Regions from separate parts of the Homo sapiens genome. Here region 1 is linked to region 2. Evidence: fine-mapped expression QTL. A gene starts in region 2. The other region holds a variant in brackets. All regions are shown on one strand. Distances are between the middles of the regions. Region 1 holds the start of PYROXD1 (pyridine nucleotide-disulphide oxidoreductase domain 1). Region 2 holds the start of RECQL (RecQ like helicase).

Region 1 (11,423 bases), 69 kb before region 2:
CAATAATATTTGAAACAACAAATGTGTTTCATTTTTCTTTCTAAAAGAAGTAAAATTAAGAGATAAAAAATCTTTAATTTCGGTACTGTCCGTCAACTGAAATAAATTAGCCACATTCGATACCATAATTTAACATTTTACTCATTACGAATAAATTATGCTGTACTTTCTTTGCATCTTAATTTATTTTTTAGAAATCACAAGTTATTTTAATCAACAAAAATAGGAGTAGAAAGTGTTGCTTCTTCCTTTTTCTTTAGTATAATAACTAGCCTGAAAACAGTTTTTTTTTTTTTTAATTTTTTTTGAGACAGGGTCTCACTCTGTCACCTAAGCTGGAGTGAAATGGTACAATCATAGCTCACTGCAGCCTTGCCCTCCTGGGCTAAGGTGATCCTCCCATCTCAGCTTCTGGAGTAGCTGAGACCACAGGCATGCACCACCATGCCTGGCTAATTTTGTGTTTTTTATAGAGACGAACTTTTGCCATATTGCCGAGTTTGGTCTCAAACTCCTGGACTCAAGCGATCCACCAGTCTCAGCCTCCCTCCCAAAGTGTTGAAATTACAGGTGTGAACCACCATATCTGGCCTGATTTTATTTAATTATGAAAAAAAAATCTGAATTTCCCTGATCTTCAATGTAACTGATGTTAAAATGTTACCTGATGTATTAAATAGAAAATAATTAAGCCTCAGATCATTAAATAATAATTCTTTCAACTGCTGTCACAATTATTTTATATATGGAAATCATAGCAATTAATGAATGAATGCCATGAAACATAAGTACTAATGTTTTATTCAAAAACAGCATGAAAGTTATAAATCTATTTCTTTATAAAGGATACAGAAAAGTACATGCAAATTATACTATTTCGTACTATGAAGGACATCTTTTAGAAGTTTTCATCATGATTCAAAAGTTATAGAAACGAGGTGCGGATAATAAAAAAGGTTTTATATTTGGCTTTGGAATTTGTGTACTTACAACTTAATAAGAGTATTTCCTGTTGATATGGTTTGAAACTTAAATTGAAATATGAAGCTCCATGGTACCGCTTGTGAAGAGCTTAGAAATTTTATAAACCGAGTAAACAGCATTGGAAACCCAGCAGGAAAGCCTCTTATTGTAATAAAGAGCCTGATTCCATTGTTGATGTTTGACTGCTGGAAGCTTTCAGGCCTCACGACTCCCCTGTCCCTTGCTGCCCCACATCTGGGCAGTCTGAGAAGGTTTCAGTATGCCCCTCCCTTGGTGCCCACGTGATTTTCAAGCCATACAAGGACTGGCCTGTATGTGCCAGAACTCTCACCCCAGCTCGATCACCTAATCTCATTAAAAACAGGGCCTGTCACCCTTCTCTGCTCTCCAAGCTATTTTTGGATCAGCTTATAATCCTGTCCTATTCTCCCCAGAAAGCCTCATTATGTAAGTAATAAGCCTTTTCATTCCCTCATGGGGTGAGTGTGTGTGTGTGTGTGTGTGTGTGTGTGTATGTGTGTGTGATCATTAATCTTCACATCCAAATCAAATTTTGGATGGGGGTTCCTTCCTGATACTGTGAGTTCCTTCCTGATACTGTGGGGTGACTGTAACATTTATCTACCTAGAACAACAGAACAACCTGGTCTCAAAATATCATATCAAACTATTGAGAAAGGAACAGCAGTATCTCATAAGGCAAATTCATGTTTCACAATTGTAGATTCAGCCATACTATGAAGCCTCGGTCTTTATAAGATTGTGCTTACTATGTTAATTATAAAGACTTAAGAAACATTTATTGAATAAATATTACTTAAATTGCTGTGCTAAGTGCTGGGATTAGGGCCACAAGCAAGAAAATCAAAGGTGAATAAAATACATTCCCTTTCTCAAAGAAGCCTAATAAGGACACACCAACTTTAACACAAGAAACACTGCTCAATGCAGTAAAGTACTACAGATTTGGCCATTTCTCCCTGAGAATGGTGGGTGGCATCTGAGCTTACCATTCTTAGACCCATAGATTTCTATAGGCAGAGCAAGAAAGCCTGTAATGAAGGAAACCAAAATTCTTTTTTTTTTTTTTTTTTTGAGACAAGGTTTTACCCTTTCTCTCAGGCTGGAGAGCAGTGGTGCGATCAAGGCTCACTGCAGCCTCAACCTCCCCAGTCCCAGGTGATCCTTCTACCTCAGCCTCTGGAGTAGCTAGGACCACAGGTACTTGCCACCATGCCCAGCTAATTTTTGTATTTTTTGTAGAGATGAGGTTTGGTCATGTGGCCCAGGCTGGTCTTGAACTTCTGGGCTCAGGCGATCTGTCCACCTCAGCCTCTCAAAGTCCCGGGATTACAGGCGTGAGCAACCAAGCCCTGCCTGAGACAAGAATTTTTGATGCATTCAGGGAACTGGGAATGTTCCAGAAGCAGAAGTGGTAGAAAGGCAGAGGAACCACATCTCCCTTTTATAAGATAACTCTTACGGCAGCATGGAGGATAAGTTTAAAGACAGTGAATGGAGGAACAAAGACCAATCAGGAACTCATTTTAATAGTCTAAGTGGGCGAAGAAGACCAAAAATAGCGCAGTAACAGTCAAAACTGAAATGAAGGAACTGGGAAACACTTTAGAATTGGTAGGACTTGAGAAACTACACTTTGAAGTTGAGGGAATATGGTGTAAGAAATGCATTCAGTTTTCTAAATGGTATAAGTTTAATATTTATAAAACAAACATGGTATATCATGGGGTTAAATGTGATTTTTCTGGTTAATTCAGCTCCAAAAGCTTAAGAACAGTATAATAGGCGTCAAGTTGACCAATGCCTTCAACGCAAGGTACTAGACCACACAGGCAACGCGTGCTAAAAGACTATAAAATTGGTTTTGCCAGCATTAGTGCATCACATTCACTCCCTGCTCCAACATGCTCACGAAGCATATGGGGAAGAGGAAGGGAAAGTGTTTCACCCCACCACCACCAATGCCCTGTCCGCAGCACAAGTGAGGAGGACGTTAAGGGAACCATTTAGAGAGCTTTACAGGTAGCCCCTGGAGTCCGAATGATGCAGAAACTGATACTTCATTCCACTGAAGACACAGAGGTGTGACTAGGTAGACATTCGGACAGCAGAAAAGAGAGATGCTCTGTTGGCTTGATGTGCACTTTCAGAGTCTAGTGGGGACAAAGGATGAGTGAGTTTCCCAGAAGCCCATTGTGGACCCTGTTTCATCTTAAAAGGGACTGAATCTGGAGAAGGAAAGGCCCAGAACCTGTAGGTGAGAGATCCCCAGTGATGTGGAGATTCTGATGTACCCATAAAAGCACCCCAGCAGAGAATCAACATTTGGAATCAGCCACACCATGAAAACAGCGATGCTAGATTATAACTAATGTTTGTGCCGGCAAATGTTGAACAACTGGCTGTCTGAAAAAACTGCATGTATAAATATATGTGTGTGTGTGTATGTATATATACATAGGTTTATTATAAATTTTATTGAAAGGTGTATAGCAAATATTTTACAAATAATAATATGCAATACTCTTTATTGTAAATTCCATATAGCCAGCTGATTCTACAGAATCCTTTCATTGATTTTTGCTTGTATTACCCAAACTATGACAGCAATTGATGAGTGTAGTTTGAATGTTGATTGACTTTTCTATTTACATTAACTAGTAAGATGGAAGTGAAACAAAGGAACAATAGGTTGCAATTTCACTTGTTTGTCTGATATTAGTGAGTTCTTTGCTAAATTGAATAGCAGCTCTCTGAAAAAAGAATTTCTTCAGTTTTTTTGTGCTATTCACAGTGTACTACAATCTACCACAACAGACATGACACTCTTTTAATTTCATTATTAACATTCTCTCCATCAGTTTTTTTAAATGAGTCTCCATCTATTTTGTGTTTCTTTAACTTTTAAGTTCAGGGGTACATGTACAGGATGTGAAGGTTTGTTACATAGGTAAACATGTGTCATGGGGGGTTTGTTGTACTGATTATTTCATCACCCAGGTATTAAGCCCAGTATCCATTAATTACTTTTCCTGATCCTCTCCCTCCTCCTACCTCCACCCTCAGACAGGCCCAGTGTGTGATGTTTCCCTCTGTGTGTCCATGCTGTTCTCATCATTTAGCTCCCACTTATAAGTGAGAACATACGGTATTTGGTTTTCTGTTCCTGTGTTAGTTTGCTAAGGATAATGGCCTCCAGCTCCATCCATGTCAGTGTAAAGGGCATAATTTGATTCCTTTTTATGGCTGCATAGTATTCCATGGTGTATATGTACCACATTGTCTTTATCCAGTCTATCATTGATGGGCATTTGGGTTGATCCCATGTCTTTGCTATTGTCCACCACCTTTTTAACTCTAAAAAATCAACAATAAAATAAATCAAACTCTGGTTTGTATAATCTGCCATTTTCCATGGTGTAAATACTCCTATTACGGCCAATTTCAAGATCAACATGACGTCGCTGAATGAGGCAGTAGGAAGAAATGTATAGTAGCCCACCATTATATTTTTACCTGTAGATACAATAGATGTAAATAACCTCAAGAGTAGAGATAATAGCAAAAGAGTTAGGAAATAAGAAGTTTTGAATATTTATTACCTTTGTCTTAATATAACTTATTTGATTATGTTTATACAATTTAGTGTTTAACAATAGCTGTGTTAACAATCAGCTCACACAAATCCTAAAATTTTAACAATCAGCTCTCACAGATTCACAGTTGTACCACACCACTGATTCATAGATATAGGAAGACAGCCTGCGGTATGGCAAGAATGACACCACGGCCATGATGACTGATGTTGGATTCCTGCATACTAAGGTGTTCTGCAGCAAGGTCCTTAAACAATGCCCATAGCATAGATAACCCTTCAAAAGAAACAAAGCTTGTAACTTAGATAATTCTCTCATTAAGATTCTTATCTAGACTCCCCAGTGTTCATGAGTTTTGCAAGAAAGTCTGAGACATGATCAGCTGTACATCTTTTATCCTAAAAGCTTACATAATTTCTGGAGGGCAGGTGTGGGGATGCACTGTAACAGAATCATCATTTCTGTGTGTAAGTCCCTATTAAATACCTCTTTCTGAGAAACTGGATTTGTCAGTTTTTCTTTGGCCTCTCAGCTCTCTCAGCCTTTGGGGGTAGGTTTGCATATATATGCTCATACAGGAACAACAGTGAGGCTCTTTCCTCTCCTTACTCCTTACCCACCCTCCAATCTTAAAGCCCCTGAAAACATCAGCTCTTAGTTAGGAGAAGAGCTGGAGCAAAAAAGCAACAAGAAATCAATTTGCGTTGCCTGTAGTTAGGTGAGGCTTTAATTGGATGCGTGTCTGGAGTTTTGATAATAGGTAGTACCAGACTTTTTATTACCTGAGAATGATCAGATAAGCTAAATTAATAAGAATTTAGAGGAGAAAAATACATTCACAGGAAAAGCGTTGAGAAATAAAAATGTTTGCTTTAATTTCTTCCCTATAAAGTCCAGCTTGTTCAGTAAATCAGTTATATGAACTAACAAAACAAAGAAGAGGTTTCGAGTGCAAGATGAATCCAGGCTGTACTTACAGCGAATTGGCAAAAACCAAGATAAAAATGAGAAGATATCCAAGATGTTTCAGAAATTTCAGGCTTGAAGATTCAGAGTAGATTGCATGAGAGATAGACATTTGGGAGTTAAAAGCATAATAGGCTTGTTAAGGTTATGATCATAGATAAAATCCTTTAGACAGAGAAACATAGTCTATTCAACAGGGCACAGGCAGGCAACTTAACCATTAATCCTACTAAGAGGCACGCACTATGCTAGGAAGTTTAAATATGTTGCCTCACACATGCATCAAAACAACTCTACAAAGTAGATCTTATACCCGTCTTGCCAATGAGGAAACTAGGGTTCAGATGAGGTAAATAACTCACTGAATGGTCACACAACAAAGAAATGCTGGTGCCACATTTGAACCTAGGTCATCTGACTCAAAAGCTATTAATCACCAACTATGAAATGTCATTATTCATTCCCAATTTTTGCAGTTGAAAATTAACCTCAATACTCCTATTCTAGGCATTTCTGATATCAACTTGAAGAAGAATGGAAGACTAGATTTTGATGGTAGTTTGAAAGTTGGGGATGGCCTTCAAGAGATTAGGTGGGTATGGGAATCAGATGTAACAACATTATGGAGAGAAATAGAAGAAGATAGCTTTATCTCCTTCAGTTTTTCCACATGAATCTTGAACTCCCCAACCACTTTTCTTTCTTTCTTCCCTTTTACCATCTCCTGTATTTCCCATGCTCATTCCTGCTGCTAAGCCTTTGGTTCTTGGGATATTTCCCACATGACTTGCCACATCTTCTTCTGAACCTATCCAAATGCTATGGGCCTTTGAGATTCAATATAAATTCCACTTCTTCTCTGAACCTTTCTTTGCCAAGTCCTGCTTTTCTTTTCCACCCATAAACATACACCATAATATTTAGCAATACACTGGTATTTCTTTGACTCCTCAGAAACAGTCACCAGGTCACTCCTAAGCTTGCTGACCAGAGCTAAAGGGGAGCTGAAGTTCTGTCTTTTCTGCTTCTCTGCTGCTTCCTGGCATTGGGCCTCCCTTATTTCTAGGTGCCCAGTTTTCTTTGCAGTTGCCCTTTCTCCTAACCTGTACCTATTGCTGCCCTCCCTGTGGATAACATGTTTCAAGTTACCTACATCTTACTTTTAACCCACTTTACATCCAGTATATGTATCTAATTTAATCAACATTAAGGTGAGATGCACTGAAAGTTCTTTAACCCTTAGACATTTCTAAAAGTTGGATATTCATGCCAGTGTGGCAGGCAGCTAGGTCTTATCCCTACATCACCTTTGACAAAAAAGCCAGCCTTCACAAGGGGAAGAAAAAAGGAGAGTGTGGAGTCATTACCCCTTTACATTTGAGGAGCCTCCTACTACTTTGCTTCCCCTCCCACAGACGATGATCTCCTTCCGTTTCCCCTGGGAGCTTAAATTCCACTCCATTCTTCCTTCCGACTTCCATAAAGAGGAAACCCCTGTCACAATATACAAGAGGATCCTGACCCTGGACAATGAATCTAAAAATCTTTAGAAGGACTTCAGGGGAGTTTCATGCTCCACCAACTTCCTATTTCGTTGAGCACATTTTTGTTGAATACATACTCCCTACTAAACATTGGAGATACAAAGGGAGACAAAAATAATCCCTGAGATTATGTAAGCAGTTTATGGTGGTGGTGGGGTCAGGCAGTAAGAATTTACAATAAAGTGGGATAAGTCTAAATTTAGAGGATGACAAAGTGCTATAAGAACACACGGAGAGGACACCTAGCTGTCTTGAGGATGTTAGATAAAGTATCTTAAAGGGGAAGCAATGGCTTGATGAAACCAAAGGTTGATGAGTTAGCCAGGGAAAAGTAGTTGGGAAAAAGATATGTGCAAATGCTCAGAAAGAAAATGGCATATCCTGGGATCTGGAAGTGTAGTGTGGCCTGAATGGAACACAGTGTGAGTGAGATAATGTGAAAATAAGCTGAAGCAAGATGAGATCTAAATGGGCTTAAGGAATGTATTTCCTCCTCCTAGAAATGAATGCTTTGTTTGGTTGCTATACTAGTAACAGGAATTAGACACGTTTATTAAACCGCTTACCATTTAACTTGGTAAATCAAAGAACAATGATTTTTACAGGTATCAGTAAATGCCTGTAATTAGATACGTGGTAGGCTTTCCTGTTAATATATAATGGTTATTCTCAGTGTTTAAAGAATTAAAGGGACTCGGGTAATTACCAGTTTTAGAGTGAACCATTTGAGAGATAATACCTTACCATTACAAAACAACTCCTAGGGAAAGTTATATGAGACAGCAAAGGTAATAGTAAATAGTAAAATAATATGAATAGTGAATAATATAGTAAAAACAGTTAAAAATGATTTAGCAATTTCTTAAAAACAATTGACCACGAAAAAAATTCACAGTAAAACCGAGACTGGGAATATTTCATTCAACCCTCACACATGCTGCTATTGACTGGAAATTTAAGAAATGTTCATTTGTTTTGACAAAATGGAAAGCAACTGTACATTCTTCCTGGAAACTTTAGCTGAGGT[C/T]AAAGTTGTAAATGAAAAGGATGATTTTTTAGAGAACAATTCAGTAGTATTGTTTTGCCTTGTCATGAAGAATTTTTGTGCTTCCACAAACAAAAATCTTGGATTGTTAGGTGAACGGTGGCAATCAAGTGGTTTTCAGAAGACTCAAGTTTCTTCATCTACAAAAATGACAGGAGTGGGGTCAGGATGTTCCCGAAGGCTCCTTCTACTCATAAGAGCATAAAATCTGTGCCTCTAATTTCTCGCAGAAACAAATAATGAGAACTTCACACCAATTCATTTATTATATGAATGTTTTGTCCCGTGAGAACACTGGTCTATCTTTAGATATGTAATTTATCAAACTTCTTTGGGCAACCCATCTTCTTTACTTTTTTATTTTTAATTTTTTGGTTTTCTCTTTGTCAAATTTTCATGGAATAACTACATTCAGGTGTAGTAATAGTAACGCAAAGCTCTGAACACCACGAGACAATTCGTTGCTTCCGAAACGCAGCCGGCAGCAGGTACTCGAGATGAGTAGTGTGAGCTCCCGAGCACCCGTAGGTCGGATTATCTGGTAAGGCACCGGAAGTGACCGCCTCGCGGCTGCTTCCTCTCCTGGAGTCCAGAGTCCCGTTGCTCCGCCGCGATATTCAGTAAACCACTGGGAGTCCGGCAGCATGGAGGCAGCGCGCCCTCCCCCGACGGCAGGGAAGTTCGTGGTGGTCGGCGGCGGCATCGCGGGCGTCACTTGTGCGGAGCAGGTAGGGCGGTGCTCAGGCGGTTCCGCCTCTTTCCCCGACCCCAAAGGGGATAGCACTGGAGGCCTTCCTCCCACCCCCTCCCTTTTTCTTCTTCCGGGTTCCTTTTTTGCTGCGCCCTTTTCCGCACTTATTGCTCCCAGATTTTAGAAACTGCTTGGTGGTCCTCAGATGACCTCACTAGCTTTCTCTTAGGCGCAGGGAGGAGTGGGAGGCAAATTATAGCCGAGAAACCAAAGCTGGCTGATCCGTGCTCAGATCCTTGTAATGTCAGAGCAGACATGAGGACTTTGTATTTAGACAAAAAATTCAGCCCCCTTTCTTTTTATTTTTTTTTCTTTTTCTTTGAGACGGAGTCTCACTCTGTCGCCCAGACTGGAGGGCAGTGGTGCGATCTTGGCTTAATGCAAGCTTTGCCTCCCGGGTTCAAGCGATTCTTCTGTTGCGTCAGCCTGTAGCTGGGATTACAGGCGCCAGCCACCACGCCCCGCTAATGTTTGTATTTTTAGTAGAGACGGGCTTTCACCATGTTGGCCAGGCTGGTCTCGAACTCCTGGGCTCAAGCAGTCTGCCCGCTTCCGCCTACCGAAGTGCTGGCATTACAGGCCTGAGCCACAGCACCCGGCCCTCAGCCCCCTTTGTTAATTATCGTAGGTGATTGAGTTTAGTTTCCAGATAGTTGCCAAGTCTTTAGTGCATCTTAACTAATTAATAAAGAATCCCATATGTAAGTTTTCTATACTTCGAACTCCCAAGATAGAAGAAACTTTATTTCTAGTAAAGTTTTGTAAAATAATCAGCGAAGGATTAAATGCATGTAGGGCTTGCTTTCTTGATTATACTGAATAGCCAGACCATATATATTCAGATACATGTGTGTATTCCAAAAAGTTCTACATTATTTTGTTGATATAAAGTAAACATGAGCAATCACTGAAGTCATAAGAAATAGTGGAAGAAACTCAAGTGTTTCCATCGTTGGATGCGTATTTTCCGTTTATTCACTAAGTAAACATATATGATGCAGGCACCGTATTAAGGGCTGAGTGTTCAACTATGAACAGCATGGTATATACCATGCTGGGGACTCACAGCCTGCTGGAAGAGACAATATTACAATATTGTATGTCTATGCAAGAGATATCAACGGTTATCTTAGAGGTGCCTGTGGAGTATGTAGGGAGTGAATTAGGGAAGAGGAAATTTTTTTAATCAAAGAAGGTATTTTTAAAATCTCATTATGAAAGAATGAGTGAAAGTTTACCAAGTATTCAAGAAAAGAATGTCATCTCCAGTGGAAAAGCATGGATCATCAGGGAGCAGTAAAGCTTAAAGCATAGATCATAAGGAGTCTTAGCATGCTGAGAACTTAACAAGAATTTACAAGTAGTCAAATGTTTTTGAGCAGTGGAGTAACTTGATCATATGAAAAGGCTTGAAAGATGATTAGTTACAATGTATTTGTGGCAGAGGCAGCTGGTTTATACGTGAAACTGGAGAGCCAATTCGAAGGTGATTTCAGTAGTATAAAGAAGTTTTGAGGACCTCATCTAGCAATGGAAACAGCAGAGATATAAATTACAGAATATACAGAGGAAAGAAAGATGGAGAGAGTAATGATATTGTCAAATATAGAAAGTTCAAATAAAATGAGACTGAGAAGAATCGCATGGGTGTTGGGCACGATAGCTCACACTTGTAATCTTAGAACTTTGGGAGGCCAAGGTGGGAGGATTGCATGAGTCCAGGAGTTTGAAGCCAGACTGGGCAACATGGCAAGATCCCATCTCCATTAAAAAAAAAATAAATAATCCCTTGGATTTTAAGGATTCATAGATCCCTCAAACATGCTGTTTTAGTGATGGAGTAGGAATAGAAGCCAGATTATTGAGGGTGGTGGTGTCGAGGAACCAGACTTTGAGATAAGAAAATGCTTTCAGGTACAGAGTGAAGAAGACCGAGGTTGTAGCTAAAGGAAAATAATGAAACATTAACAAGTTATACCTCTAAATTTTGTGGAAGCAATTATTAAAATGGCTTTATCGTCCCACAATATGTACTGACTGGAAGAGGCAGAATAGGAGTGCCAGAGCACCTGGGGAAAGTTAGACCAATATTCTAAGTGTTTAATATTGAGGGTTTGCTTTAATTTCATCCCATTGAAGACAAATGAAATATTATTTTAAGATAAATAGAAGTTGGTTTAACTGGTAATTAGGAAGATAGTTTATTCTCATCCTCTGCATTATAACTCTAAATTGGTATAAAAAATAGTTGAAGTAAATAAAGGATATTTCTTTATATCACTTTTCTTGTTCAGGAGTTCTTTGTTAGTGTTTACTGTAAATATTATTTTCTCAGTATCAGAGTTTAATATTATTCACCATTGCCCCATCAAGACCAAGGATAATGGAGACCTTTAGATGAGGAACAGTGGGTTTTTAATTTTCTAGATTAATTACATTATTAAAATTGCATTATTCTCAACCCCAAACCATATATACCAGTACTTAAAGTAATTTGTCCTAATTTTTTTTCTCTC
Region 2 (11,921 bases):
CTTCGACAAAGTATAATCATAATTAATCAGGTAGACAAGATGACCTGGACATTGACCACACTTGTCCTTGCACAACGAAGTCAAGAACAAAGTGCCTTCTGCAACATGGACTGCCACTCACGAAGACCCATCTGGCTACATCCAGAGCTAAGTGCTCAACCTGCAAACAGCTCATACCAACCTTGAGTTCCAATGGAGGCACCATTCTCTGTGGGGACAGACAGATGCTTGATGGCAAAGTGACCGCATTGGAACCGTCTATAATGAAAGAGGCAGCACTTTGTTCTCACTGATACAGATGCTTACTCCGGATATGAATTTACCATACCTGCCTGCAGTGCTCTATCATGTCCACCATCCAGGAATTCACGGAATTCCTACTGATTGTCATCGTATTCCCCACCAAATTACTTCTGACCAAAGAACTCATTTACAGCAAACAAAGCACAACAGAAGGCTAATGTTCAAGATATTAACTGGTCTAACTATGTTCACCAACAACCTGCAGCAGCTAGCCTGAGAAAATAATGGAGTGGCATTTTGCAGACTCAATTATGCTGCCAGCTGGGTATCAGCACTTTAAGGGCTGGACTAGTAGCCTCCAGGATATGGCATGCTATACATCAGTGAATAGTGCTGTTTCTCCCATTGCCACGATTCACGGGAATCAGCGGTGGAAATGGGAGTGGCTCTTCTATTACCCTTAGTGATCCGCTAGTGAAATTTTTGCTTCCCATCCTTGAAACATCGGACTCTTGCTGGCCTAGAGGTCTTGGTTACCAAGAAAGAAATGCTTGTACCAGGGGAAAAAGCAATAGTTCCATTAAACTGGAAGTTGACTGCCACTTGGCCACTTTGGGTTCCTCATGCCAACAAATGAACAGGCAAAGAAGGCGATTACTATACTTGCTGGGGTAAGTGATCCTGACTATTAAGGGGAAATCAGATAGCTACTACACTATAGGGATAAGGAAGAGTATGTCTGGAAAGCAGAAGATCCTCTAGTGCACCTCTCAGTATTCCCTTACCTTGTGATTAAAGTTAATTGAAAACTATAATAACCAAATATAGGAAACTACTAAGGCAAGTAGTCCCCACCAAGCAAAGACCCATTACCAACTGAGAACCAAGGAATACAGAATGGGTAGTTGAAGAAGGCAGTTATAAAGTACAAACTATGATCACATGACCAATTGAAAAACAAGAACTGTAATAGCTATAAGTCTTTCTTGCTTTTTAAAATTTGTATATAAACCAAGTTTGGGTTTTTCCTTTTATTTGGTCCCTCTCCGATACATTACAGTATTACCAAGGAGGACATGATTCAGCAAGAAGAGAAATGAGCATCACCCAAAGACGAATAAAGATAATTTGTACCTGCTCTTTTGGGGAAGGGGTCAGTGTATACTCAGCAGTAAGAGAAATAGGCAAAAGCATGATTCCGCTATTGCCTTTATTTGGACACAAATAAGGTAAAAATTAGACACAAAAGGACAAATGTTATATGATTCCATTTATATGAGGTACCTAAAATAGTCAAGAAACAGAAAGTAGAATAGTGGCTATCAGGGATTAGGAGAAGAGAAGTAATGGAAAGTTACGGATTAATGAGTATAGAATTTTAGTCTGGATAGATGAAAAAGCTCTGGAGATGGATAGTGGTGACGACTGCACAACAGTCTAAATGCATTTAATGCCAATGAATTATTCACTTAATAATGGTTAGCATGGCAAAGTTTGTAATGTGTATTTTACTTCAATAAAAAAGCTGAAAAAAATCATTTCTATAATCAGAATTTTTAAAACAAACTTTTTCAAATATCATACAAACAGAAATAGAACAGAAGGAAGAAGAAAATGTAATCATTGCTACTAACCTGAAACGGACGCCATTCTTTTTCTTTCCAAATTTGTTTCTAAAATAATCCAAATTTCTTTCTAAAAATAAAAGCACAACAGTGACAACAAGTTTTTAAAAATAGTACTATTAATGATGTTCACTCAACAGTAATCTGTCATTCCTAAGCACGGAAAATGTTAGAAAGTAAATTATATATTGCAGTGACCTTTCAAATAAGAACCACATGGTTCTTTTGACACTAATTTTTTATGGAAAACTCTATATTTCAGCTTAATAACCCACAACACTCAGAACGACTAACTCTCTAGATTTCAGAGAAGTGTCCAAAGTCACATAAACGTATACATGACAAATACAGTAGCAATGACACTCAGCAAACATCCACAAGATACAAAGTGATGTAACAAAAAACAGCAAACATTCAACAGGTCTAGCACCAATTGCTATGTGACTAAATTACTATGTTAGGCAAAGTTGCATATGCTGTTCCTCCAAGCCTCTTTCCCTACCTGTAAAACTGGGAGGATGGCAATCTTATAAATAAGTTGGATAGATTCAAATGTACCAGATTAAGCAAAATACATCAACATAAATAATAAAATTAATCATCTAACATTTTATTGAGCCCTTGCGTTAAAGAATTACAATATAAGCCCAATCTTAAAAGAGAAACTGGTATTCTACAGAAAAGCTAGATTTTCTAAGTTAGAGGTGGGGGGAGGGGAAAATGGTTTGTAATGATTTCTAAGTATCTATGAATGACTAAAACCTAAGCATGCATATGGACAAGTGGAAAATGGGGCTGGAGAGTAGAAACTTTAAATTCCCCATAATCCTAAAAACACCTCTTCTATCTCTCTAATATGGACATTTTCTAAAACTAAGATGCTCTCCAAAAGTCACTTCTGCAACACCTATCCTTAGACTGCTGACCTTACGCCCTTTCTACACAGAATTCTGAAGCCACCACTAGGCCGGAAAGATAGGCTGACTCTTTTTTGCCTTGCTAAAGAATGTGGAATAACCACACCATTAAAAGAAGGCTAAATAGGAGAGTAAACCAAGGATTTCTAATTCTTGATCTATACAAACATCTCTTCACGTAATGAAAATGTAACATTCCTTCCATAGACTGTAAGGTCCTTTAGCAGGGCTGGGGTTCAATCTCTTCACCTTTGTATCCGCACAGCCCAGGAAAATGCCTTGATGTAGTGAGGGCTCAGGTTTGCTAAGGTAGCAGGGGCTGTTTCTACCCTTATGAAAAGACACAGTCTATATCCAATTCTCCCCCACGATTTTAAATGACTCCTTTGATTATGCGGTTAAAAGACTGCTCCTTCCCAAAATGATGTGATTTAACAGCAAAAGATATCTCAACATAAAATGTATCCAGAAATTGAACTACAGCAGGTCTGTCACTCAGCAGTATAAGCTAGGCATCCACAGGAAGAATGTTACAGGGTGACAGCCAGTCATCAATGTTGGAGGAAACGCCACTGAGATACCATAGGCTAAATCCTCTCTCTCCCCGCCACCTGCATTTAGAGGCAATAGTAATTTAATATTAATAACGCCCGCCCTTCCGCTACTGTGAAGCAGGGGGTGGAAGAAGCATCCCCAGTAGTATTTACCAACAAATGGCAGCTGCTAATAAACAGGCTTTGGTGGCCAATCCTCCTGCATGGAAAAGAATGGGGAGATCAGAAGACCGGTCAGCAGGCGAACGTGCCCCTAAAGGCCCGAGTTCTCAGAGCAGGGCAGTGATTAACTTTCCGGTTTCTCCTCCGCCAATGTGTGGGCGAAAGGAAGTGATCCGCTACAGACCGGCCTCGCCCTGCAGCAGGAAAGGGAAGGATGAAACAAAAAGCGCACACCCTTGACCCTTCAAAGCTGTAACAGTAGTTATCCCAGAGCCTCTCCCCACCGAGAAGCCCGGTCTAACTCTCCGGTGTTTGACTGTCCGGTGTCCGACTGTCCTGTGTCCGACTCTCCGATCTCCGACTCTCGGATCTCCGACACCAAAGCACCCAGGCCTCGAGCAGATCTTTCCGCTACTCGGGAGTAAAATCTTCCCGCCAGCCAGCTGAGAGCATCCACCCTTCCGGGTCGGTCCGTTCAGCCAATCACAGATAACTCCCTTCTCTAATTGGTCAAGGGGTGTGGTCACCATGCGCGTCACCGAACAACATTACGAGTTATTGGTTGAGATTGGAAGCAGGTTTCGCCAATAGGAAGCGCTCTTAAAGCGGCAGTGAGGGTGGCTGCGTGTTTCCGGAAGACGTGGCGGCTCTCGCCTGGGCTGTTTCCCGGCTTCATTTCTCCCGACTCAGCTTCCCACCCTGGGCTTTCCGAGGTGCTGTCGCCGCTGTCCCCACCACTGCAGCCATGATCTCCTTAACGGACACGCAGAGTAAGCACCTGCTCCGGGGCCCCCGCCTCGAGCCGCGCACACCCATCGCCCGGCTGGGTCTCGCCCCTCCGCCGGGGTCAATGAATGAAGCTCTGGGTTGGGGGCGGTGGCCTGCGAGACAGAGCTAGGGCTGCTGGGACCCTAAGGGGCTGCCTTCGGGATGCCGGGGCTAGACTTGGACTGGCGGACCTGACCTGGGAGAAGAGTCTGTGGGGCAGGGTGGGACGCCCTATGTTGGGAGGGGAGCTTTAGCCCAGAGTCTGTCTCATTCCAGGGTCGCGCTGATCTCCTCATCCCCAGTGAGATGGGCGCTTTGTTCTAGGGGCTTGCCACAAGAGAAAGTTTGCGTGGTGCCCGCGGCCCACTCTCGGGATCGTTTATGCGCATGACACACTTCGGGTCCTCTACAAGTCCCTGGCTGGCTGGTTATTTGGGAGGCGGTATTTTAAATGTCACCTACAGTAGGCTCTTTTTGAAAATGTCCTTACGCTTAAATGTGGCATTTTGAATATTCGCTTTTTGCCAGTACTGTAAGCAACCTTTTAGAAGTCTCTTGAAACATTCTCACTTTTCTACCTGCTAAAGTTTCAAGCAGTAGAGAAAAGCCACTTTGTGTGCCATTAAAGGATATATTTCGTTAGTATTGTATATTGTGCTTTGTGGCTTGTTTTATTATTTTAGCATCGCTCTCTGCCTGCCACAGAGTTCTCCAGGCCTATTTCATCTCTAAAGCTAGCATTGATATCGGTTTCCTTTTCTTTCATTATAATATTTCCACTTTCCTACTGCTTTTTGTTAATATTAATAATTTTTGTATTTATGTCTGCCCAAGCTCTGTACCTCATATTTTGATGTTCATAAGAGTCTCTTTTTGTCTCACTTTGCTTTATCTGCCACGCCTTTCATTTCACTCCAGTTAACTCAGATTTTCAATATTTTAAGACTTAAACAGTGAATTGAAGTGAAAAATAGAAGTTTATTTAAAATGCCCTATTTTAAAGTGGAGTCTTCTTGTGGAGATTCAAGTCATGGCAGACCAACTTCACAGAGCTTCTAAGGCCTCCTACACACACTGCCACCCCCCAATCAGGCTGTCTTCCCTCCTGAGGCTGGACTGGGGCTGCCTCTTGGGGCCACCTGCCCCAAGGTTGCCGCCCACTTTGGTCCATTGGCCTGGCCTGTTCTGATCAAAGAAAATAAAAGTGTAGTCTTGAGGGGATAGGAATCTAGTGTAATAATAATTACTGGCAATTATATAAAGGTATTTTCTTTCAGTTAACCATGTGCTTTCATGTGAATCATTATGCATAATTCTTATAAGAGCCCTGTAAGGCTCACAGAAGCATGCCCCTTTCATAAGTTAAATGAGGCACAAAAGAAATTGAGTGCATGGTCAAAGAAAAAGTGACAGAAACAAAACTTGATCCCAGGTGTGCTGGCTCAGAAACCTTTTGCACTGTACCCCACTATCACCTAAGAAGACTTGATATAAACTTTATTTGAGATCTGAGAATAATCTGTGCATAGAAATTATATTTTTGAAGACTTAATATAGTGATGAGTGCCTGCTTTATAAAAACAAGAGAGTGGGTTTGGACTATGGGCATTCTCCCTGAGAAGCATTCTCCTCACTTCATTAAATTTTGTGAGGGCAATGAAATTTTACTCTTTGCTGTTCACTTGTCACATGTTTTAGGTGAAACAGTGGATTGAAACATAAAACGATTAGTGAACCAAATGCATTTTGGATTTCAAATTGTGTTTGTGTGTGAGTGTGTTTAACTGCAGGGATTGGCCATCATTCAAGTGATTTGTCAGGATTATTCTGGGATTTTGGTTTTTAGAGAGTGGCCAAGCACTGCTCAGAGTAGAATAAATGGAAATTCATGATTATTTTAAGGCATTCTAGGACTTTCCTCACCGCCCCAAAAAAGACAAGACTTATTCAGAGGGGCGGAGGAGGGGCATGCTGCCTCTAAATCTTCATTTCATCACATTGTCTAAAAGCCTAGTGTGATAATTGCATTCTCCAGTACAGTTAATGTTCAATTGAATTCTTGCTTGACTTCTGTTTTTCAAAGGGTATGGTAAGAGAGACAATGCTGCTTTTAAAAAATTGTGAATAAGATATCAAAATGCTAACAGTGTTTGCCATTAGATTATGCGTGTCTTTCCTTATACAATTTCCACAGTATGCTCCTTATGTTAGACAGATTCGTTTTATTAAATTGTTTTTATATTTTTTTTAACTTGTGGACAGTTTTTTAAACATGTGGGAGGAGTGAAGGAAGATAAGTTTGTTTTACTGGATATGATTCCGATGGGAAGAAGGCAGCTCTATGCAAGGCTTTTGATAGCCAGAGGGCTTATGAATGCATACGGATAGGGAAAAGGGGGATCCTGGAGGTGAGAAAAAGGCACAATGAGGCCAATTTGAGACTTTTGACCAGTGTGGATCAGGAGCTACTTGGCAATGTCATTGCCAGTACCAGTTGTGGCAAAGATGTTTTGGGCAATGTCTCCCGCTGGACTGTACTGGATAAAGTAGTGGAATATTTTGGTTCCCATGTTGTAGTTGTAGGACCATTGTCTGTGGAGTGAGAAGACTGGTTGAATGCTGACTTCACAGACTGTTGTACCTGCCTCCATACCACCAGCACCCACACACACATTTTTGCTGCTTCTATGATCAAGAACAAGTTACTGAATTACCTCTAGGTCCATGGTTGCACATATGAACCATAGGACCAGTGCTACCTTTTACCTCACAATTTTGTTAAAGAAATTATAAAATTTTTGTATAAACACTTCATAACACGGTAAACCATACTCAGAGATTGGCCTTTTTGACCGCAGTTAATTTTTAATAGTTCTACTTGGCTATGTTAGATAACAAGCTAATATTAAACTTGAATCCCCTAAAAGATGCGTCCCCCAGAAGTTCAGAATACTCCAGTGTCCTTGAGTTTCATGTAACCAAACACCTTTAACCTAAAAAATAAAAATTCTGTGGGAAGAGGTATGGCATTAATGGTTAAGCACATGAGCTTTGGATTCAAAAGACCTTGGTTCGAATGCTTATCTAGAAGTGTGGCTTTAGGCAACTTAAGTCAACTCTCTAAACTTCAATTTCCTCCATCTTTAAAAAGATGTAATTATACCTGCATTCCAGTAGTATTGGAAGTATTAAGTTATATATAAGGTATGTGAAGCACTTCATAAGGCCTAATTCGTGGTAAATTCTCAGTACATAGTAGGTGTCTTTCCATATACCTTCCTTTCTAAAAACATCTCAGAATTTTTATGTAATCATCAAGGTTATTTGTGAAATGATAGAAATTAGTCATCTTCAACTAACAAAGCTGCCGATGTTTAATCCTAACTACTAAATAGTTATTTAATAGAATTTTACTTGCTCTTTTGTCCATATTTTCCTCTATGAAATTATGTCCACTATCCAAATAGTTAATTTGGTAAATTCTCTTAAGGCCTTTGATCATGAAAGTATCAGCCTCAAATTTTCATAGGAATGTGTGTTGAATTCACTTAACTGGTGTATTTATAGACCAGGTACCTGAATTATTTTAGACTAACTTTGGGAACAAAAGGTGTCTGCAATGGAAGACACTAGTTATCAGGAAATTGAGCAGGTGGGGAATGTAGAAAAAGCTAAAGTTGATAAAAGTTTTCAAGTTATCAGAACATTTTATATGACTTAAGAGTTTTTTAAGTAGCTGTGACCTAGATTTTAGCTTTCTGGAGCTGAGGCAAAAAAGTTAAGCAATAGATCAGAAATCAGTGATAGGGTATTTTAAATTGTGCTTCTAAAAATACGGTGGCTTCTACTCTGACTCATCTGTATGCAGATTGTGCTTCTAACTAAACTACGGATTAATGGCTATTTTCTAGAATCAAAACTAAAATGATCAAGGAGGTAACTTAGTGAATTGTGCTTTATAACATTAATAGAAGAGTACATCTGTCACCTTAGAAGTTAAGACTTTTCATACTAAAAAAATAAGACCTAGAGAATGCACAGTCAATAAAAGTATTAATTTTATATACAAGATAAACATAGACTTTAAAGCTTACACCTCGTCTACCACTGTATATTCAGTACCTGGAACAGTTCCTTGCATCTGGCAGTTGATCAACAATTCTTTGTTTTTTAATGAAACTAATGAAACATGAAAAACCTAGAATATTAATATTAGGTAAAACAGTATTCTTTGAAACTTCGGAGAGGTGATTTTAGGACTCTAGACCAAATATTTAAGTAGATTTATAGTTTAGGTAAATTTGTAGATAAGTCCATAATAAGTAATCAAGAAATTAAAAGTGATGCCTGACCTTCTGAAAATTTGGTTTTGAGAATACTGGTACCATGATTTTCGAAATATTTCTTGTTGCCATTGTGACAAGCAGTATATAATTGGATAAAGGATATTGATTGTGCGGACCTACCATAACATTTCTAATGCAGTAAAGAAGGAATCAATTTTAAGAGGAAGAAAGAACTACAGATATTGTGCATTTAAATAATAATTATAGAATGTGAAAGGAGATAAGTAATTAAGGAAACCTATACATTTATGTCTGATGCGAGAGAGCTTTTCAGGAGGAAAAAAACAAATTACATATTAAAACCAAAGGTTTAGAATCCCGATTTATCTTTTTTATTATAGCTATGTCTGAGAAATGCTATCTCCCATATAAGGCTTAGAAATTTTCATTCATGTTTTAAATTTTGAAATAATTTGCTGATAATTAATTTGTTATAAGAGCTAAATAAATGTCATTATGAAGTTAACCTGCAATGTTGGGTACCTGTTTTCTTATACCTATGAAAGGAAAACTGGAAAATTTTCTTAGTTTACAGGGATGTTAATGTGACTTTAATTTTTCTCTACCCTTAACCATATACCTTATATTGCAGAAATTGGAATGGGATTAACAGGATTTGGAGTGTTTTTCCTGTTCTTTGGAATGATTCTCTTTTTTGACAAAGCACTACTGGCTATTGGAAATGTGAGTTTTTAAATATATATTTTAACTAAATTTATAAGGAAATTTTAACTACGAATGAATTATTATCTGCTATTAAATTTGGGGAAAATAATTCACTATTACTCATAAGTAATTCCTGTTACATTCTCTATTTCCATCAGGAATGAAACCTGTCAGCTTTCTGTTTAAATAAAAGGTAAACACTTAATGAGGTTTTCTAATTCCATAACTACTCTGTTAAGTGTTTGTCATGAGATTTACAATAGATTAAATGAAGGCTGCCTCTAAATAGGAGTTCAAAATAGATGACTTGATAGTTTCATGTCTTGATAAATCACTAAAGTATTTTTACTTTAAACATCCAAGACTTCACATTTGATTCAGCTGCATAAGATAGATTTTTTTAACCTTTTTAAAAATATATATTTCTATGTTAATGGTTGACTTGCTTAGAAAGGGATCTATGTTGTTTATTTGGAATGTGTACTATGCTATTCATGTGTGGAGGTTATGATCCAGAAATAAATAATAACCCTTCTAAGGTAGTGAAGACACTGTATGTGTGTGTGTGTGTATATATATATATACACACACACATATATATTTGGGCTTTTAACTGGAAATGGGAAAAGATAAAGAATAGCAAAATTGTTCAAAATTGATGTCTTAATAAATGATAATAGCATTAGTATCCTAGAATATGAAGCTTAACCATTAGGCTTAATATGTATTTGTGCGAAATATTTTTCACTAAAGAATGTTAATGGGGAGGGCAAGTATTTGGAAAGAAAACCTGGGGAAAGCAAGCTCTTAATCCATCACCATTTCTTGTCCACAGAATACATTCAAAATATTTGAAAACACATGGTTGTATTTTTATTTCTGCTGCCACCAGATATTCTAGAATTTATAAAACTAGAATCTTCTTGGCTTCACGTTGTTTCTTCTGCTATCAACTTAGCCATGTCAATATTTCTCCCATCCATAGAAACTCCTGTAGCCTATGATGAATATTTCAGAACCAAGAGGAATACCCTTGGGTGACATATTTATGGGCAGCTTTCCTCTTTATGCCTTGCCAACTCATCTGCTTGACTAAGCCTTCCTCATCCAGCTAAAACTAGGAAAACTACTGCAGACACAGATGCCCCTTGGTAACGTCTAATCTTTCTTTGTTTCTCTTTTTCTCCATTTAATCAAGATAGAAGAGGAATGAGACAAGTGGAACAAAGCTACAACTTTAAAATGCATAACCCACTCCTTGGTTCTGCTGCTTGGTTGTACATTACAGTTCTGTCTGGCCAGTTGCCCACATTAAAAGCCAAACAAATGTGCTTCTTTTTTTATATTTAGCTTTGACTTTACGTTTAAAATTTATGCATTGTGTTTAATTACCTTTTCCGTGTTGTATTTTCTTTCTCTTTTAGGTTTTATTTGTAGCCGGCTTGGCTTTTGTAATTGGTTTAGAAAGAACATTCAGATTCTTCTTCCAAAAACATAAAATGAAAGCTACAGGTTTTTTTCTGGGTGGTGTATTTGTAGTCCTTATTGGTTGGCCTTTGATAGGCATGATCTTCGAAATTTATGGATTTTTTCTCTTGTTCAGGTAAGGCATATTATTGTCTCTTTCAGTAAATCAGTGTGTCAGATAGTTAGTACAAAAACTCAGATATTTGCATCAGTTGGAGTAAGATGATGATCATTTCCTTAAATGGAATTTTATTTAGGTTGAATCTTATAGATTTAGATGAAGCAACTATAAAAATGTTTTATCACATGTGAATGATTGCCTAATGGTATAAATTATCTTGTTTTGTCAGCACAATAAAGTTTATTTTATTGGCATTTTAAGGCACCATCTTTATGTTGGATATTTGTATCAACTAAATAGTGGTAGGTAGGTCGGTCGATCGATCAATCGGTAGGTAGGTAGGTAGATAGATAGATAGATAGATAGATAGATAGATCCAGCATTTTGGTGTGTAGAATCTTATACTTCATAGCTACTGCTACTTGATGGAAATTTATTTAGCACATATACGTATTAGAAGATTGTTTACCAAATACACTACTATGGGAGATTTTGAGCAGGTAATATTTTGTAAATGCCAGTTAGCAGATAAACAATAGTATGTGTATATATCTATATGAAAATACCTTTGGCCAGGTGCGGTGGCTCACACCTGTAATCCCAGCACTTTGGGAGGCCGAGGTGGGCGGATCACCTGAGGTCAGGAGGTCAAGACCAGCCTGGCCAGCATGATGAAACCCCGTCTCTACTAAAAATTCAAAAATTAGCTGGCCATGCTGGCAGGCGCCTGTAATCCTAGCTACTCGGGAGGCTGAGGCAGGCGAATTGTTTGAACCTGGGAGGCGGAAGTTGCAGTGAGCCGATCACACCATTGCACTCCAGCCTAGGCAATAGAGCGAGACTCTGTCTCAAAAAAAAAAAAAAAAAAAAAAAAAAAACAGAAAAGAAAATAACTTTAAGTAGGGTTGAGCTTAATTATTTATTCCAGAAATGCATATCCTTTGTCTTCTGTCTGCCAGGCACTGTATTACCCACAGGAGACATAAAAATAAATTAAGTACCAAATCTGCTTTAGAAAATCTCTCATTTCTATTATGGAAAGTAGACTCTAA

What was found.
Region 1: its variant is fine-mapped to the expression of RECQL in testis (GTEx, PIP 0.95).

The regions. Positions count from the first base shown.
Region 1 is chr12:21,428,931-21,440,353 of GRCh38, forward strand. It overlaps PYROXD1 (pyridine nucleotide-disulphide oxidoreductase domain 1), which reads left to right and starts at 8,725. Exons shown (of 12, transcript NM_024854.5): 1 at 8,725-8,884. The coding sequence starts at 8,801. RefSeq lists enhancers at 8,554-8,633, 8,684-8,873. The variant C/T (reference allele first, on the strand shown) is at 8,139.
Region 2 is chr12:21,497,678-21,509,598 of GRCh38, forward strand. RECQL (RecQ like helicase) reads right to left here and starts at 3,958. Exons shown (of 15, transcript NM_002907.4): 1 at 3,493-3,958; 2 at 1,878-1,938. The coding sequence starts at 1,893. GOLT1B (golgi transport 1B) reads left to right here and starts at 4,112. Exons shown (of 5, transcript NM_016072.5): 1 at 4,112-4,271; 2 at 9,208-9,299; 3 at 10,706-10,884. The coding sequence starts at 4,247. RefSeq lists enhancers at 3,242-3,311, 3,332-3,381, 3,422-3,611, 3,752-3,811, 3,762-4,469 and 2 more.